Homo sapiens: one gene and its partner. The protein of the gene in region 1 purifies or fractionates together with the protein of each later gene. This does not show direct contact. Each region holds a gene or a part of one and is shown on either strand. Other genes may lie near its edges.

What was found. The genes of interacting proteins can lie anywhere in the genome.
Region 2: the proteins of ZC2HC1A (region 1) and USP16 fractionate together in Homo sapiens (co-fractionation; one large-scale study listed by BioGRID). This does not show direct contact.

The regions. Positions count from the first base shown.
Region 1 is NC_000008.11:78,668,190-78,673,364, reverse strand, and holds part of ZC2HC1A (zinc finger C2HC domain-containing protein 1A), read right to left. Parts: intron 1-5,175.
Region 2 is NC_000021.9:29,027,668-29,031,502, reverse strand, and holds part of USP16 (ubiquitin carboxyl-terminal hydrolase 16), read right to left. Parts: intron 3,631-3,835; 5' UTR 3,590-3,630; coding exon 3,529-3,589; intron 909-3,528; coding exon 730-908; intron 1-729. UniProt on the Homo sapiens protein: Specifically deubiquitinates 'Lys-120' of histone H2A (H2AK119Ub), a specific tag for epigenetic transcriptional repression, thereby acting as a coactivator.

The DNA.
Region 1 (5,175 bases):
AGCACTATTTACAATAGCAAAGACTTAGAACCAACCCAAATGCCCATCAATGATAGACTGGATAAACAAAATGTGGCACATGTCTACCATGGAATACTATGCAGCCATAAAAAAGAATGAGTTCATGTCCTTTGCAGGGACATGGATGAAGCTGGAAACCATCTTTCTCAGCAAACTAACACAGGAACAGAAAATCAAACACCGCATGTTCTTATTCATAAGTGGGAGCTGAACAATGAGAACACATGGACACAGGGAGGGGAACATCACACTCCAGGGCCTGTCAGGGGGTGGGAGGCAAAAGGAGGGAGAGCATTAAGACAAATACCTAATGCATGTGGGGCTTAAAACCTAGATGACAGGTTGATGGGTGCAGCAAACCACCATGGCACATGTATACCTGTATAACAAGCCTGCACGTTCTGCACATGTAGCCCAGAACTTAAAGTAAAATTAAAAAAAAAATTAAAAATAATTTATGTAGTTTAAATTGTGAAACTTCACATTATAATGTTTTCTTTAGTTTCATTGGTAAGTTGTCAGTTGCTGTAAAACAAATTTCTTACTGTAATTTGAAGTAAGAAAAATTATCAATTAAAATGGGCTTAAGAGTTACCAGTGGGCAAAAAGACCAGAATAAACACAGAAAAGTCATAATTTAAGGATAACCAAGCTGATTAGTTGGAAATATGTAGTTTTCTTGTAATTATTTTAACCAAATCAATTTGTCATGTTCTTTTATCTTAAAGGTTATCTCTACGGTAAATTACTAAACCTTAAAAACAAAATTTATCTTATTAATCTCCAAGGCATGAAGAAATACTGCTGGTGATCAGTTAAGTGACATACTGAGTTGATCTGCAGAGTGTAGGGTAAAAAAAATCGTTTTCTCTTTATCACCAGATAATAGAAAGCATACTGCTATAAGGTTAAGATCACCTAGTTATGCAAACCGCATGTATTATTTGAATTGTTATTTTATACATATGATACTTATATTAAGATTAATTGGACCAAGGGGTTAAAATATTCTGACCTCACACACACAACTAATTAAATAATAAAGTGGCTGTACCTTTCTCTCAATTAAAATAATCATCATGTGCCTGGATATAAATTTTATTACTAAAATAATTTTTAAAAAAATATTAATAGAATCTTCTACCCAGATCATGATAAATACCTTAGGCCTCAGAGTCAAAAGCCACATTTTGCTCTAATTAAATTCATTAAAAGACATGACAGTATAGTTGAAAAAGCACTGGAATTTGTCTTACATTATCTAACTTCAAGTCCCCAGCTCTGTCACTGAGAACTATGAGTCCTCAGGCAAGATACTTAAGCTCTCTAAGGTTTAGATTTCCTTACATAAAATAAGGAAGTTAAGTTAAATGACATACGGTCCCTTTTTATCTGTAACGTACGGTAATTTAACAAAATCTACCTTAAGACTACATTAGCAAGAAAAGTACATGGAAGACATCTTTCTTACTGACTTTTTAAATAAAGTTTATATATAAGAATGATTAAACCAACTGCAGATGGTAGAACGAATGCTTCAGGTAGTGTACACCACATTAAGGAAATAACTTCCACTTATCTACACAGAGAACTGAGAACCTGAAAGGACCTACAGCAAAGAACTCCTTGTTAGAGAAGCCTTTAAGACATGAATTAGAAAGAAATATATGATAATCATATAGGCAGACTCAGTTTAACAACAGTTAAATGAGGCTAATATCTGCTCAATTTACTTTAAAATTTCAGAGGATCAATTATTACATATAAAAATGTTTCATAACCTACAGAAATAAAAAATATTACTTTCCAAGGCATGCAGGCAATCTCCACTAACCTTTCCTAAGTGGCAAAAACTAGCAAATTTTGCAGCTTATAAAAATACAAGAGAAAGATGATATTCAGAGGGGTGATTATTGGTGAATATTATATCAGAGAGCAAATACTGTTGAAATAAGCACTCAAGGTGATGGATACAACCAAGTCAATAAAGTACTTTAATATTCTAGAACTTTTAAGAAGCCAATCTCTCCTTACAAAATCTATCTGGCACACACTGTTGATTCTGTTATGAGTTGCTTATGTTTTGCAACTTCAAAACCTGCATGATGGTAAGACTTGAAATGGTATCTTTATCTAACACTATAAGTGATGAGAAATAAAGATTTTATTTCAAATAGTTGTGACATTTTAAAATGCATACATTTAAGAACTATGAGAGAACATTTTCAAAGAAATCTTGGAAATTAAGAACAGTTCTGGCCTCCCTTGTGGCATGTCCATCTCCTCACTGCTGGTAAGTCTTATATTCTATCACCGTTCATTTGACTCCTTTAACACTCAACAAATCTTTCTTCTGAAGCACTAAATATGTTATATCACTTTCTTCCCAATATCCTTTCCAAAATCGAATTACTTTCAGATCAATATTATCCAGTGTCTCAGAAGATTTACCCTTTTCAGCTCATCCTAGAAGAGTTTTTGTCTTAACCTAGTCAATGCCTACCCGACTCAACACACAACCTTCATCCTTCACAGCATTTTAGTCACCTACACTCTAGTTCAGCAAAACTACTGCCAAAACAACCAACTCTGGACTTTAAAACACTCAAGTTTCCTCTTTAACCATAGAATTCTACCTCCTACCTTTCTCTAAGTTACTATCTTGATCTCAGAGTGACTTGCTTTTCTTAATAAGTTCATTCCTGGCTGCATGTCCTTTCCTACCCAGTCTGAACATGACCCATCATTTATACTAGGAATTATCCACGAATCCCTTGCTACATGGCCAAATGTTTGGAAAATGGTACATTAACCTAAGTTAAATGGGTTCTCTTAGAGCAGAACTCCCTTAGTCTTAAAAAAAGAAGCTTAGTATGTTGTTATTTGCCCAAATTTATTTTATCAGAAATCCTTTGTACTCCCAAAACCAATGTTCTCCACCAATGTCCTGATGAGCACATTTTTTGAAACACTAACTTACATTTTCTGCTTAGTCCTTCTCTGCCTCTCATTCACTCACTGTCTGAACTGCAGGGAGACATTATCAGGCCAAGCACTATATTGAAATACATCCATTCCGCCGAGTGCGTTGGCTCACACCTGTAATCCCAGCACTTTGGGACGTCGAGGCAGGCAGACCACCTGAGGTCAGGAGTTCGAGATCAGCCTGACCAACATGCAGAAACCCCATCTCTACTAAAAATACAAAATTAACTAGGCTTGGTGGCACATGCCTGTAATCCCAGCTACTCCGGAGGCTGAGGGAGGAGAATCGCTTGAACCCAGAAGGCGGAGGTTGTGGTGAGCCCAGATCATGCCACTGCACTCCAGCCTGGGCAACAAAAGCGAAACTCCGTATCAAAAAAAAAAAAAGAAAGAAAGAAAGAAAGAAAGAAATACATTCATTCCTTGATTCAATAAGTATTTGTTGAGCACCTAGCATGAGGCAGAAACTGTTCTAGGAGGTAGGAGTATAAGGATGATAAAAAACAAATACTCTGATCTTATAGAGCTTTCACTGATCTAACAGGGAAAAAATGAATAAAAACTAATATATAAAATGTTACATGGTGATAACCACAATGAAGGTAGAACAAAGTAAGGGGAGAAGAGATGGTCATAATGCTGTCTTGGAGAAGTATGGATAATCAGGGAAAGTTTGTTTAATAAGGACACAATAATGACATTAAAAAGGAAGGTAACGGATTACTATTTACTAATTGTCAAATCTGAAGCTCTCTTTTGAATCCCCATCCTACTGGGCCTTTCTACAGTCTGAGCCACTGCTGACAAATCTCTTTCACCTTTAAAGTCCTTTCTCTCTTGGCTTCAATGTTTCCTTCGCTCCTCCCAAGCATGCTATGTTTTACCTATACTGGACCTGCTAACATGCTTTTTGTGATTTTCGCCATCTAACAAACACACACTGAGAGGGCCTCCTATGCACTAGGTACTTAGCTAAATGTTTTACATATATTACATTATTTAATACTTAATATAATTTAGGTAGTTACATATTTAATAGCTCCATTTTTTTCATAGCAGGGAAAATAAGGGTTCAGATTAAGTAAACTGCCCAAATCATAGAGCTAAAAAGAAACAAAGCAAGGATTCAAACACAGTCCTCTCCAATATACTGTCTATTAAAATATCTGGCATCCAACTCACTACCAAAAAGCAGTAAATGCTAGATAAATTAATAAAGATAAAGAATTATACAGTAAACTAGTATACATTTATACTACGAAAAAATAAAACAAAACAGAAATTTTGATGAGACACGACTATCTTTAAACCAAGGGCTACACTGAAGAGCAATCAGTCTTCTAATCAAGTTTTAGAGGGCAGTACTAAGATCTAATAATTTCAACAATCCACAAGAGGAACGGACAGTCTGATCTCTGCCACAATTTTTATAACCATTTATCAGGGATATGAAGGGAATGACAATACTGTATATAAGGATAAAATCTGCTTAGATTTTACCATCTCTCCATTTTACAAATAAAAAAAGCTTATAAGAGATTGGAACTCTCTCAAGTCTAGAACTACTTCTATTATCCTTAGATAGATTTTGTGGGGCACAAATTTTATTAGATGAAAAGGAATTAAAAGGTTTTGCTATAACTATCTACAGAATGTAGAAGTGCTCAGATATTGATTCTACAAAAACAGATAACTTATATTTCATTTCAAAGTATAGTGTTTGAGCCTAATACCTCATCTATTGACTATTCAAGAAGCATAAAGACCCTGAAGACCAAAAGTAAAACAAATGGTATATGATTACATGCAAATAACGTAAGTTATAAGAAAGAGTAAGATTATCTTTAATAGAAATTTTCAAGAGTCCATATATTTTCTTGTTTTATAGCCAAGATTAATGTCTGGTAACTGGTTTCAACTAGAAACATATGTCTAATGCCAGAGTACAATATTTACGCAATTACTCTGACACATTAAGCAAACTTTTGAATATTTCTTACTGGATACTGCAATATAATATTTATTAAACACCTTCAAAGTACTAGACTTTAACTTCCAATAGAGGTAAGAAACTACCTAATCTATCACTGTATCAATGTTTCTAGAATGAAAGAATGGATGAATTAATGAACGGTAACCTTAAGACTCAGAGTTTGATATTTGCAAGGT
Region 2 (3,835 bases), on another chromosome or scaffold:
TGTGCCACTGCACTCCAGCCTGGGTGACAGAGTGAGACCCCATCTCAAAAAAACAACAAAAAACTGGCTATCTGCCTGATCTTGAAGCCTCATGACTTCATGACTACTGCCTAGTAGCCCAATTTCCTAACATATAAGCTTAACTTGCCACCACTAAGGGTAACTGAGAGACCCTGACTTTAGTACCACGGTAATAACTGTGAGCTGGTAGAGTAGATACTGTGATGTGCCAGCCAGACATGCCCTCACTGCCAAAGATCAAGGTACTACTCATTCCCCCAGGTGCTGAGAATGTGGCCGGCTGAGAGCTCACAGTCTAGTCCATCCATCCCCAGGAATCAGTCTCAACAAAAGGGAGCTGCCTTGCCCAAGGTTACTTCCTGCTCTAGGGGCAGGCCACATCCAATGACTGGTCTATGCACAGGTAGAAAGGTCTAGCTCCTTGCCTCAATTCAGGCAAGAGATCACTGTGGGATTGGCTGAGACCCTGTTGCCACTGCCTCTTCATTCAACTTCTCCCTATGCTTAATCTTGCTTCCCTTACTTTTACTGGTGTGGTACCAGAGAACACTCCACCACCTATACACACATCTCAGAACTGGTTCTCCAGAGAACATGATCTATGTTACTAGTATCCTTTTATCCATACTGTACTTTCAGGTAATACCTTCTAAAGTAAGTTCAAAGAGTTTTCTAAAATCCCATATTGATCTTAAAACGTAAGCATACCTGATGGCCACATTTAAGACACAGCCAAACTGAAGGCTTTTCTTCTGTTTCTTCTTCAGCTTTATCTTTCACTTTATTGTCAGTCTTACAGTCTTGGCAGATATTCCATTCCACATTCACTAAAGCCTTTTTCAAATTACCTTGTTCCAATCCTTTTCTAATGTGTCTGCACACAGGTTCTATTAAAACAAATAATAGACAAGGAATATATAAGGTCAAAAATGACTTTCTTCAGTTAATCTCAAAACTTACCCTCGATTCACATTTCAAAAATGAAATTTACTCTATAAACTGTTAAGATATTCTGAACTTAAAATTGTTTGATATTTGAATAATATGAGATAAATATGTGAGAAAGAGATTTGACACAAATTTGTGAAGTTTCGCTTTCTTGAAGTCCTAAATATAACCACCACTGTCCCCCACTACAAATTCATTTCAATTTATTTGGCTATTTCCTTTAAATTAAGGCCCTTTATCATACTTATGATTCTCTTTATCTTTAAAGATTTGTAGAAAACGTCCTTCATTTAGTCAATAATACACCTACTATAGGGCAGGCACTGTGCTAGACGCTCAGGAGCCCAAAATTGACCAAGTCACAGCTGTTTTCTTTGAGTAGCTCACATTCTGGAAGGAAAGGCAGCTAAATAAATTAATGTATAAGAATCTCCGAAACATGGTATAGCAGCACAAGCAGAGAAGGCTAAAGTCACCAAAAGTTTCACAGGGGAGGTAACATCTGTGCAATCCTAGAAGATAATAATAGTAATAAAAATTGCTGATATTAATTAAATATGTCCTATGAACTTTGTTAAATGTTTTGAATACATTATCCCATTTAATCCTTACAATCACCCTAGAAGACACTATTATTCCCAATGACAAATGAGAAAACTAAGATTTAGTACCCACATAACTACTGAGTATCTATGCCAGAATTTAGACTCAAGTCTTTCAGACTTCATAGCTCACACTTTAAACTGCGACCTCAGGGAGTGAAGGGCAATCTGAAAATGCCCATGCCAAGAACAAAAACATGTGAAAGTGCATGCTGTCTCCCCAGATGATGGAGTTACACAATGTGCAAAAATGAGCAGTTGAACCTGAGGCTGAAAACTCTGTTGGGGCCAAGATAAGTAAAGAGCTTTGCAAACCACTCTACAGTGCTGAGTTGTTCCAGGAACACTGGAGGTTTAGAAACTAGTCAAGTGGCATAATTAGCTTTATGTCCAATGATCTTGCACCAAGAAAAGAAATATAAATGCAAATGGGATCAGGTGGAAAAACTACCAAATCTCAGTAGTCAAAGAAATACAAACTAGAAAAAGAAGGTACCCTTTTTTTTCTTTTTTCTTTTTGAGACGGAGTCTTGCTCTGTTGCCCAGGCTGGAGTGCAGTGGCACAATCTCGGCTCACTGCAAGCTCCGCCTCCCAGGTTCACGCCATTCTCCTGCCTCAGCCTCCCAAGTAGCTGGGACTACAGGCGCCCGCCACCACGCCCAGCTAATTTTTTGTATGTTTAGTAGAGACGGGGTTTCACCGTGTTAGCCAGGATGGTCTCGATCTCCTGACCTCGTGATCTGCCCGCCTTGGCCTCCCAGAGTGCTGGGATTACAGGCGTGAGCCACCACACCTGGTCAGAAGGTAACCTTTTTTAACTACCAAATCAGCACAGATGTTTACAGATGATACTAACCAGTGCCGATGAAGGTTCAGGGAAATGGGCACTTTACTACGCTAATAGGGGGCCTGGAAATTAGTAAAACATTTCTGGATGGCAATTTAGCAACAGGATCAAAAGAGTCTTAAAAATGTTTACACCCTTCGATTCAAAAATTATGTATGTGTATTAGGAAAATATTTGGATGTACAGAGAGATTTAGCTATAAAGTTGTTTACTACTGAGCCATTCATAATACTAAAAAGTTAAAGATTACCTAAATCTGTAACAGTAGAAAATTATCTAAATAAATTATGAAATATACATCCATGGTCTTTGCTAAATGCAATAATATGCCATTAAAAATGTTGTTGAAGGTCGGGCGCGGTGGCTCACGCCTGTAATCCCAGCACTTTGGGATGCTGAGGAAGCGGATCACTTGAGGTCAGGAGTTCAAGACCAGCCTGGTCAACATGGTGAAACCCTGTCTCTACTAAAAATACAAAAATTAGCTGGGTGTGGTGGAGCACACCTGTAATCCCAGCTACTCATGAGGCTGAGACAGGAGAATCGCTTGAACCCTCAAGGCAAAGGCTGCAGTGAGCTGAGATCACACTACTGCACTCCAGCCTGGGCAACAGAGCCAGACTCCGTCTCAGGAAAAAAAACAAAAAAGATGTAGAAAGTCAGGTGCAGTGGCTCTCACGTGTAATCCTAGCACTTTTGGAGGCCAAGGCAGGCGGATCACTTGAGGCCAGGAGTTCAAGACCAGCCTGACCAACACAGGGAAACCCCGTCACTATTAAAAAAAAAAAAAAAAATTAGCTGGCTGTGGTGGGATGTGTCTGTAATCCCAGCTACTCAGAGGCTGAGGCACGAGAGAACCGTTTGAACCTGGGAGGCGGAGGTTGCAGTGAGCTGAGATTGCACCACTGCACTCCAGCCTGGGCAACAGAGCGAGATTCTTTCTCAAAAAAAAAAAAAAAAGTAGAAGACTATTAAATGACATATAGATACAAACATTATATTAAAATGCAGATAATATAACAATAATATGCAGCTTTATACCATTTTTACATTTTAAAACATATTCATTTAGAGATATAAACATTAAAGATTCAATCAATGAAATATACCTAAAGTTTCAGAGGAATCATCGATTGGAACAGTTTTTCCCTTTGTCCGTTTCTTTCCCATGTTGGCACTTTATGGATTACTTACTGACACAAAATAACAATCTAGAAAACAAGATAAAGTTAGCTTGACCAAAAAAAAAAGTATGTCTTATATTTCTCTAGGAGACAGTAATATAACTAAGCCACGTATATTATGCATGTCTATCACATTGTAATTTACAAAGACCAATCACATATAATCATCTAATTTTCAACAGGAACTCAAGTAGATAGAATAGTTATCTCCCGTTTTTCATAGCATAGGAAA